Regions from separate parts of the Homo sapiens genome. Here region 1 is linked to region 2. Evidence: fine-mapped expression QTL. A gene starts in region 2. The other region holds a variant in brackets. All regions are shown on one strand. Distances are from middle to middle. Region 1 has its middle 7.2 kb from the start of POU2F2-AS2. Region 2 holds the start of CXCL17 (C-X-C motif chemokine ligand 17).

What was found. PIP is the estimated chance that this variant, and not a neighbour inherited with it, causes the effect. A credible set is the group of variants that fine-mapping cannot tell apart.
Region 1: its variant is the best candidate, but not a certain one, in a credible set for the expression of CXCL17 in esophagus mucosa (GTEx, PIP 0.65).

Annotation. Positions count from the first base shown.
Region 1 is chr19:42,142,669-42,148,041 of GRCh38, reverse strand. It overlaps a transcript of POU2F2 not described here. Among named protein-coding and RNA genes, the nearest start is that of POU2F2-AS2, 7.2 kb to the left of the region's middle. The variant G/A (reference allele first, on the strand shown) is at 2,755.
Region 2 is chr19:42,440,566-42,445,938 of GRCh38, reverse strand. CXCL17 (C-X-C motif chemokine ligand 17) reads left to right here and starts at 2,993. Exons shown (of 4, transcript NM_198477.3): 1 at 2,993-3,185. The coding sequence starts at 3,107. The region is part of intron 1 of LIPE-AS1 (LIPE antisense RNA 1); the gene reads right to left.

The DNA of each region.
Region 1 (5,373 bases), 300 kb after region 2:
AATGACCATTTTGCCTGCCTCAGTGTGAGGGGTACAAATCCCGGCTCTTCCATGGACTCACCATGACACCCTGGGAAGGGGGCTTCTCCTGTCTGAGCCTTATTTCCTCCTCTGGGTCATAACTACTACCTCATAGGGGTCAGGGAAAGGGGAAATACAAAACACAATGTCACCTGATAAATGGCCATGCCCTTTCCTGTTGCTCTTCTCTCTGACTCCTGCCCATCCTCTAGGTTCCAGGTCTTTAAGCTTTTGTATTTGCAGAGGATTTTTTCCCAACGCACTGTCAATATTCATTGACTATTTGGATCCTCACCACTATCTTGTAAAGGAGGAATTATTATCTTGATTTTACAGAAGTGGAAACTGAGGCTTCGAAGACTTAAGTACTCTGCCTCAGGTGCTTGTCCCTATGCAGGATCCATTTAAGTCATTCATTCCACCTGTCTGTTGAGCACCCACTATGTGCCCAGCGTTTGTTGGGCACTAAAGATGTAGCAGGCAGCAGAACCAGCATGGTGTATTTTCATGGAGTTGACAACTAGAGAAGATGCAGATCTTTAAGTGTAAACATCAATCAAATACAAAATCAGGAACTGATAAGTCTATCCCAAAGAATAAACTAGAATAGGGAGCCAGGAGAGAGGGCAAGTTATTTAAGCCAAACCTTAAAAGACGAGTAGGATTTAATGGGGCAAAGAGCACAGGAACAGTGTTCCAGGCAGAGGGAATGGCACATGCGAAGGGCCTGGGGTTGCAAAGAGCATGGTTTAAAGAACAGAGAGGAGACAGCATGGCTTGGAGCAGGGTAGGCAAAGAGGTGAGTGATGGGGGAAGAGATGAGAGGTGTCAGCAGGGGTGAGATGACATAGGACTTTATAGGTTGGGTTAAGGTGATTGAGTTTTATTCCCAAATGCATGGGAAGCTCCTGGAGAATCTTAAGCAAGGGAGTGACACCACCTGGTTACGTTTTAGAAAGACCCCCTTTGGGGGCCAAGGGGAGACGAGACTATCTGAGACAGGCATGGAAGAAGGGACACCTTCGGGGAGGAGACCACTGAAGTCACTCAGGCCAGAGGTGGTGGTGGCCTGGACTGCAGTGGGAGGAGTGGAGGAATCAGACAGCGCTTTTGGAATTGGTGACAATATCAAGGCTCAAAGAAGTGGAGAGCAGAGAGTGAGAGTCTGACCCTTCCAAACCTGAGCTTTTCCTCTTACCAGGTCAGGTGCTACTTTTTCCCTAGGAGGCTGCAGGAAGCCTCCATGAGGCAGATGCCTGGGTTGCTTATATTTAATGTTCTCCATGTGAACCCTAAAGTGCCTGGTTGGCACTGAGAAGTTTCTTGCCAGACCGGGATCTTGCACAGATGTGAATGGGGGGGCCTTCCCTTAGGAGACTCCACAGAGGAGGTGAGCTCTGAGTAAGGTGGTGTAGGGAGCGAGTAGATTTGAAGGTGTTGGCTCCCCTCACAGCTGGTCTTTCTGTATGAGCTCGGAGAATCTGCTAGGGCCCCACAAAGTGGAGCTGGGGAGCATTGTGCAATCTGCATCCCAGAATTGTTGTGAATCAAGGTGGGCAGGTGATGTGAAGGCACTCAGTGAATGGTTCATATTGGCAGAAGGCCATAACTGGGGACGGGGATGGGAGATACATGGATGTCTCAGACAGCAAAGCCCAGGTCCAAGGCCAGTGTTTCTGCTGAGCCAATGGGACAGGGTGGGCAAGGGTTTGAGGGAGAGGAAGAGAACAGTGGATGGCAATGTGGACTTTGGAGTCCGGTTTCCTGGGTGCCAATCCTGGTTCCATCTGTGTCTCCAGCCAAGTGATTTAACTTTGCTGGGCATCAGTGTTTTCCTCTGTAAAATGGGGATGTTAACAATGCTTTTTTGTAGAGTATTGAGAAGATTCAGTGAGAAAATGCTTCTAAATATTAATAGTAGGTGGAGGGCTTCTCTTTAACTTGTCTAAAGCAGAACTCTTTTTTTTCTTTTTTTTTTTTTTTTTTTTGAGACGGAGTCTCGCTCTGTCACCCAGGCTGGAGTGCAGTGGCGCGATCTCGGCTCATTGCAAGCTCCACCTCCTGGGAAGCAGAACTCTTTTTTTTTTGAGACAGAGTCTCGCTTTGTCACCCAGGCTGGAGTGCAGTGGCGCAATCTCAGCTCACTGCAACCTCCGCCTCCCGGGTTTAAGTGATTCTTCTGCCTCAGCCTCCCGAGTAGCTGGGATTACAGGTGTGTGCCACCATGCCCAGCTAATTTTGGTATTTTTAGTAGAGACGGATTTCACTGTGTTGGTCAGGCTGGTCTCGAACTCCTGACCTCAAGCAATCCACCTGCCTTGGCCTCCCAGAGTGCTGGGATTACAGGCATGAGCCACTGCACCCAGCCTAAAGCAGAACTCTTGATTCCCTCTCCCAAGCTTTTCCAAGAGCTTGTGTCCATCTCAGTAAATGGTTGTCACAACAACAACCTAGACTTCTTCCTTGATCCCTCACTTTCCTTCAAATGTCCAGAGCTCAGAGTTTGCTTCAACGATGACAGGCACTGTGTCTCATGCGATCTGGGCTAATACAGTTCCGTTAAGTTAAACTCCTCTGAATCAATGTAGAGCACCTTCTGTAGGCAGGGCCCTCTGTGGATGCTGCTCAGGGTCCGCACAGTTCTGAGAGAGGCACAGAGAGGCTGAGTGGTTTGCTCAAAGTTGCACAGCTAGGACTCAGCAGTCTTTGCAGAGGCTGAGAGAGGCCAAGGCA[G/A]CTTCTAATTCTTGAGCCTCCTAGTGTACTAAGAACGAAGGAATACTGAAATGGATTTACAGACCTGTGCTTTTAGCAATGACAACAATAAAATGCCACGTTAACTGATATTTATAAGGTCATTTCAGGATTTATTAAAACAAAATGCATACTATCTTACTGGTGGTGTGGTCTGGCAGTGTCATTCAACTATAAAGTAAAAAATACACATTTTGTTTTAATTTCATCCCCTCAGGAATGTGACACATGGGCCAAGTGACACATAGGCCACACCTAGCCCCACAGCTGGGACTTAACTACCTATTTATGTGACTCTAAAGTTGACACCTTTTCAGCCATCCTCAGTTGCTTTTGCAGAGATGCAAGAGGCCCAGGACTTCACAGACTTTGGAGGAAGAGAAATGTGCATGGGATCAGTGTAACAGCAAGGCCTGGGGCAAGGAGAGCTGGGCTCTGGAATTGGCTTGCCCATGACTGAGTCTGGGCAAGTCCTTGCCCTCTCTGACCCGCCTTGGGGTGCTCCTCTGAAAAGGGGGTGGATAATAACAGCCCCTGCTTTAGTGAATTGTTGGGAAGATGCCAAAAGATGATGCAAAGAATACACATAACATATGCCTGCACAGAGCAGGTGCCATGTAGCTGCTCTTGTTACTTAGTAGAATAGTGGGATGGTCTAGGGGCCTGGAGCATCGAGGCTTGAGAGCTCCTCAGGAGCATGGCCAAGCTGAGCCACCCTGTGTCCCTAGCTCCTGGCACAAGGTCTGGCACAGTGGGCCCTCCCTGAAGATGTGGAACTGAATCGTGTGGAAGAGGCGCTTGCCCAGGCTGAGCAGGAGTGGAGCACCAGGGGAGGACAGGGGAACTGAGTGGAGGGCCTGGCCTTTGCCTTCTTCTCCCGCCTTGTGAGGCCAGGTGGGCACTCCCATTAGCTCCCTTTTGCAGGGTGTGGAGGTCATTGCCCCTTTGTCAGCTTCTTCAATAAATCAATACCAAGCACCTCCTGGGTTGCAGGTGCTGGAGACACAGCAGTGAAGAGGACAGACACAGGCTAGTATGATTATTATCATGGTTCTAATCTGAATGGTGAATGTGGGTTCACATTAACTCATTATTAAAAATAAGTAAAACAATAAGTGAATGGATAGAGAAAGAGGGCTCCATCCAGCCCAGTGATGGGAGTACGCTGTGAACCAAGGATTATGATTAATCCAATTTTGTGCACCTGGGATCCTTCTAAAAGACAGGATGAGACATAATGGGACACACATGCTCCCTGTGCTGGCATAAACATTCAGTTTGGGGGAAAAGAGGTAATAAACAAGCACGTGACACGAGGCTTGAAGGTGAGACAGCAAAAAGTGCTAGAAGAAAGTGCAACCTGGTAGAGGACGTAGTGATGAGAAGTGCCATGTGAGACAGGATGTCAAAAGGCCTCTCTGTGGAGGGGGTGTTTAAGTGTAATTCTGGAGTAAGTAAGGGGACGAGCCTTAGGAACACCTGGGGAAGGACTGCACTGGGCAGGAGGAAGGGCAAGAGCAAAAGTCCTGAGGCAAGAAGAAGCGCGGGCGTGGATTGCAGGAACAGAAAGGCAGACAGCTTGGAGGAAGTGAGTGAAGGGGGTGGGGAGAGAGGAGTTGAGGTGGGCAGGGGCCCTTCAGAATGAGGCATCTTGAAGCTGGCTCGCTTTGCTGGCCTTCTCTGTGGCCTCCCAGGCTTGGGTCGTTAGTACCCTGGACAGCGGCCTTGGCCCTCCTGAGCGCTTGCCGTGATGGGCACTCCCTACTGAGCACACAACTTATATTAAGTCTGTTTCTGGGCAGTGAAATGGGGATGGGGAAACAGATGATATTGCAATGATTGGCCCCTGCCCACAGGAAGCACACAGTCATTGGACAAGACGTTAATGTACAGTTTAATGAATTTTTTCTTTTTTTTTGAGGCAGAGTCTTGCTCTTTTGCCCAGGGTGGAGTGCAGCAGCTTGATCTCGGCTCACTGCAACCTCAGCCCCCAGGTTCAAGCCTTAGCCTCCTGAGTAGCTGGGATTACAAGCATGCACTACCACACCCAGCTAATTTTTTGTATTTTTAGCAGAGACAGGATTTCACCATGTTGGCCAGGCTGGTCTCAAACTCCTGGCCTCAAGTGACCCAGCCTCAGTCTCCCAAAGTGCTGAGATTACAGGTGTGAACCACCACCCCTGGCCAGTTTAATGAATCTTGATCGAGTGAACATCTGTGCATTCACCACTTGGGTGGAGATGTCAAAGGCACCCAGAAGCCCCACCCCGTGTGTCCCTTTCCAAACATACTCCTTCCTCTCTGCTGGAGGTAACTACAATTCTCACTTTTGGGATAATCATTTATTTGATTTTCTGCATGTGTATCATTTAATATGTTCTAATTTTAATTAAAAAAATGAGTACAGGCCAGGCACAGTGGCTCATGACTATAACCCCAGCATGTAGGGAGACTGAGGAGGGAGGATCGCTTGAGCCCGGGAGTTCAAGACCAGCCCATGCAACATGTTGAAATCCTGTCTCTACCAAAAAGTACAAAACTTAGCTGGGTGTGGTAGCATGTGCCTTTGGTCCCAGCTACTCAGGAGGCTGAGGTAGGAGG
Region 2 (5,373 bases):
ATCCTGCTGTGTACTGTCACTGGAGAGACAAAGGTGAATCACACCTGGTCCCTGCCTCACAGAGCTCCAGGCTATGGATGAAACCCACTCAAAGTCAGACCATTACCATTCAGTGAGAAACACCGTGACAGACATCAGAAAAGGGTTTTCTTTTTAAAACAAGAAACAAAAAAGCTTTTTATAGAGACAGGGTCTCACCATGTTGCCCACACTGGTCTCAAACTCCTGGACCCAAGCCATCCTCCCACCTCAGCTTCCCAAAGTGCTGGGATTACAGGCACCCATCCAACACAGGCTTTTTGACGCATCTCACTAATCCCCTGTGAAAAATCTTCCACTCTTGGTTTCCTGGGGTCAGTTTTCTTCATTTCAAGCTCAAAGTGAAAAAGAGAATACAAATATCCCTGATGGTCCTTTGTGCGGTCACAGCTGGACCCGGTATGTCCTCCCGGTTAATCCAGGGTGCTCAGGGCTCCCATTTCACTCTGAACGTCCTCTCTCCTATCGGAGCTCACCACGTCTACACCTGCAGCAGCCAGGTAGCTGCACACTAATAGAAAATCCAGCAAGTCAGAAAACTTGATTTACTCCTGTAACTTTGAGGCTACTGACTGTGTTGTTGAACTAATCCTATAACTTCCCTGCACTTTAATTTCCATGTCTGTAAAGTGGGGCAGGTGGATTCGGTCACCCTAGGTGCCACTGTATAGTGAGAGCTCCTCAGAGACAGCAGCACACCTGATCTCAGCATCCACCATCTAGTAAATACCAGGCACACACTAGGCGCTCAAAGTCTCACTGAATGTATGTGTGAATAAATGACTATATGAGAGCCATGTGGATCATGGACAAAGTCAACAAATATTTTTGAATGTCTACCAAGTACACTGTAGAATAGGGAAATAAGTAACCCAGGCAGGGCGGTGTTTTCTCCCAAATTCCCCTTACCTCCTCCTGAGGAATGGAGGGCCTCTGTACATCAGAGAGACTCTTGACACAAATAATGTTCTTGAGATGCATCATAAGAAGTTGTGATGTTAACAAGAAAAAAGTCCATTTGTCTTGGGGGTGTTTTATATTAATAGACCTAACAGACCGGAAGCCCCCTCCAATGGGACACAGGATGCAACACCCACCCCAAGTGCATGGAGGGGAAACCAGAGGGAGCAGGACCTGGAAGAACAGAGGGGTAAAGAGACTGAGGCACGGGAGGTAGGTCTGAGGAGGAGCTCCCGGCCCCTGCGGTGGCCTGGGTGTGGACTGATGCAGAACTCAGCAGCATAAGTAAAGTGGCCGCACCAGGCTCCATTTGTACATGGGATGGTTTTTCAGTAAGATTTTCTTTCTGCTAATGGGCTACATTTTCGCACACTTTCTAATACATCAGGCCCAGTTAATGGGCTACAAAACAATCATTCCATTCAACAGTCATTTATAGAATACTCCCAAAGTGCCAGACCCTGTGTAAGTTCAAGCAATACAAAAATGAACACGAACAGCTCCTGTCCTCTAAAATCCCCATCCAATGAGCTCCAGGAGGCACCTCTCCTACAACACGCCCCTGCTCTGCACGGCCCTCCTCTCTGCCCTCCACCAACCCAAATCCTCCCCCAACTCCAGCTCAAGTTCCACCCAACCAAGTCCCTCTCAGTCCCCCTGCACTCCTGCCACTTTGAGAGATGACTGCACCCATATCTCTAGGCTTTATGAAATGGATGTCATCTCCCTGGTTTTAGAATTTTCCAGAAAGAAGCCACATCAGTGATTTGCATCAGAACAAGCTTAGGCCCACCCTGAGCCTTCAACTTGGACACAGGCTCAGTCATAGCAGTCCCTGGCCCCTGCAGTGCTTTATAAACACTGCAGTAGCAAAGTCCACAATCAACTCTGTGACAAGTCAACAGGCCGAGATAATTTGAAAACGTGGAGAAAAAAGAATGGTCAAACAAAACCAAAGGGCTTTGACTCATGCCTTTCCTCTTTCCTTCTCTCAGGGAAATAAAGTCACACCCCCTGCTCTCACTCCTGCCTGGAGGCTTCCAAAAAAAGGGCTCCCTTGTTAGCCTTCCCTTCAGCCCCCATGAATATCACCCAGCATTCAAGCCCAGCCTCTCCTCTCCCTTTGAGCACATTTCCTAAAGTCTCAAATAAATGTCAAGTTTAGTGAGTGCTGATATTCTATGCCCCTAATGTTTACTTCAAGTATTATTACCTTTCTTCTTTTGCCCGGGGCCATTTCCAAACAAGGGCTGGAGCCAGGCGCCCCAGCAGCTGGGCAAACACACTTCAGGGCTCCTTCCCTCCTGTGGCTCCTGTTTCTCAAACCCTCTGAGACCTAAAGCTCTGGGGGTCTCTTCCCCCAACCCAGTTCCCTCCCCTTTAGACCAGAACAACTAAGCCATGGCCACCTTCCCGATGGACACACAAGGAGGCCTGGTGTCACCCACTGCTCCAGGGGCGGTGTTCTCGGCAGGGGAGCTGCCTCTTGTCCCGGATCCTGCTCTGCTGCCATCTTATGTGGCTGCAGAATTGGAGGGAATTGTGAACAGAGAGAGGACAGGGCAACTTCCCAGGCAACAACACTACTATTGCCGATATTTTGCCAAGGATGGGAGCAGGAGCACAGAGGGGAAACAGACCTTGTCAAAGTCTCTTCTACCAACACTTAGTATCCACTTTCCTGCCAAATATTCAGATAGAGAGGGTCATTGAAAGGTATAAGGAAATCCAAGCAAGAAAAAAAGATTTGAGGAAGAAATCATGAGGCATTGGGGTGTGAGGAGGCGGGAAAGAGTACAGGAGAGAACTGGCACAGCTGCCAAGTTATCAGTCACCTTCTTATGTTCTTAAGAATGCTGAATTTCTTTTGTTTGACCAGTTTCACCTCCCAGATTCCCATAAAGCACATGGTCTAATCTGTTACGTAACAGCAAGACAGCGTCACCTCACCTGTTCTCGCCCTCAAATGGGAACGCTGGCCTGGGACTAAAGCATAGACCACCAGGCTGAGTATCCTGACCTGAGTCATCCCCAGGGATCAGGAGCCTCCAGCAGGGAACCTTCCATTATATTCTTCAAGCAACTTACAGCTGCACCGACAGTTGCGATGAAAGTTCTAATCTCTTCCCTCCTCCTGTTGCTGCCACTAATGCTGATGTCCATGGTCTCTAGCAGCCTGAATCCAGGTAAACAAGACTGTCTATGAAGGGGAAAACGGGGGGAGAAATGTGGCAAAACAGGCCACAGACACATCAAAATGCAGCTTCTCTTAGCTATGGGGGATGGGGCAAGTGAGCCTTTCTCAATGCCAGTTTCCTCCTTTACAAAAAAACAGCAAACTGTACTTACACCCAAACAATGTTGAGAGAGTTAAACGAGATATTGTATGTGAAAATATCTGCAACTGGCCGGGCGCGGTGGCTCACTCCTGTAATCCCAGCACTTTGGGAGGCCAAGGCAGGGCGGATTACAAGGTCAGGAGATCGAGACCATCCTGGCTAACACGGTGAAACTCCATCTCTACTAAAAATACAAAAAATTAGCCAGACCTGGTGGCACGCACCTGTAGTCCCAGCTACTCAGGAGGCTGAGGCCAGAGAATTGCTGGAACCCAGGAGGTGGAGGCTGCAGTGAGCCGAGACGGCACCACTGTACTCCAGCCTGGGTGACAGAGTGAGACTCCATCTCAAAAAAAAAAAAAAAAAAAAAAGGAAAGAAAAGAAAAGAAGATATCTGCAATTGTAGCTGATCCCCCTCACACACACGTACGTATGTATGTATATACTAGCTCAACAAAGATTTGCTCCCATGCCTTCTCCCCCAACACTTTTCCAAAAGAGTAACATAATTCTCATGGCTAAACTTAATGATGATGGTGGGAGAGTGTTGAAGGCAATGGTACCTTTATAGAAGATCAGGAAGTCCTTGCTTCTATTCTTTACAGTGCACTGGAATGCCACCAACATGTCTTAATGCTATTTACTGGTAACGTAATAAACTAGAAAAAGCCTGTCACCAGGTAGTGTCCATATTTGAAGCTTTATCCATAGCAAGCCCTGCTGTAACAGCTCACATTTTGGGAAGCCGACTTTAGCTTAGGGGTTCCAAATCTGCTCCAGCTTTCACTATAAAGTGGCCCAGCCCTGCACAGAGCAACCACGCAGAAAAGACCTGATCCCCATGTATATTTCCGCTTGTGAGCACCATCTCCCCAAAGGCCACTTTGAGGTGAAATGGCTATGTTACATACTCAGCATCAACTTGGTCCTAAAATCAGGAGGCATTCTCCCTTCTCCACCCCAATTTCCAACATCCCCTCCTTTGTAGAGAGAGTGCTCTGGAAGCTGTTAAGCCCCATAGCCCTAGGGCCTAGACCACTGTTCTGAAAGGGAAGACTTTTCCATCACTATGACAGACACCCAGGCTAGAGTCCTCTGCCTGGATTCAAAGCTGTAGCCCCAACCTGCCTTTCTAGTGTACCTCCCTCTACTCACTAAAAATACTATTTCTCCAACCAAACTAACCTGTTTGCCCTTCCCTGAACAGGTATTGTGTTTTTCCACCAGTTCAACTTTGCTCACACACCCAGCTCAAAACCACCTTCCCACAGCTTCCTTCAGTTCCTCCCACAGCCAGACATGTGGTCTCCCTCCTGAGCGCTGGCTTAGCCCTGCTGGACACTCTCTTCTTGCACTTATCATCTGCTGCCTTATATTGAGGGCCTTCATGTGCCTTTCCTGCCCCCACCCCCTGTCCTTCTAGGCTGCAAACTACTTGGTGACACAGACTGGTGCACTGTTTCCATATCCCTCACGCTATCCAGCTCAGTACTCAGCAAACATTAGCTAACTGCAAGAATGCATCCTCAGGTTGCTAAATCAAACCAGGGCTTCATAGCAGCTCTACTGACATTTGGGCTGAACAGTTCCTTGCGGTGGGGGCTGTTCTGTGTATTGTGAGATGTTCAGCAGCATCCGCGTGGCCTCTCTCCCCTACATGCCAATAGCAGCCTCCCCTCTCCCTCATCCAAACCCCTGTTATGGCAGCCAAAAATATCTCTAGACATCGCCAAATGACCCCGGAGGGGGAACCACCCTTGGTCAACAACCACTGCTCTACACCAATACTTCTCTGCATGGCCACACTTTTAGACTCACCTAGACCTTTACACTCAGCTTGGAAGTCAGGGGGACCTAGATCCTGGCTCTGCCACACACTTTGCAACCCTAGACAAGTCGCCTCACTTTTTTGAGTTTCAGTTTTATCATCTTAAAATGAAGAAAATACCACTTGTCACACACACTTGTGAAGATTAAATGATCCGCAGCGTGTCCTAGAAAGGGTTTAATAAATGGACTGAGTAGTTTCTAAGTC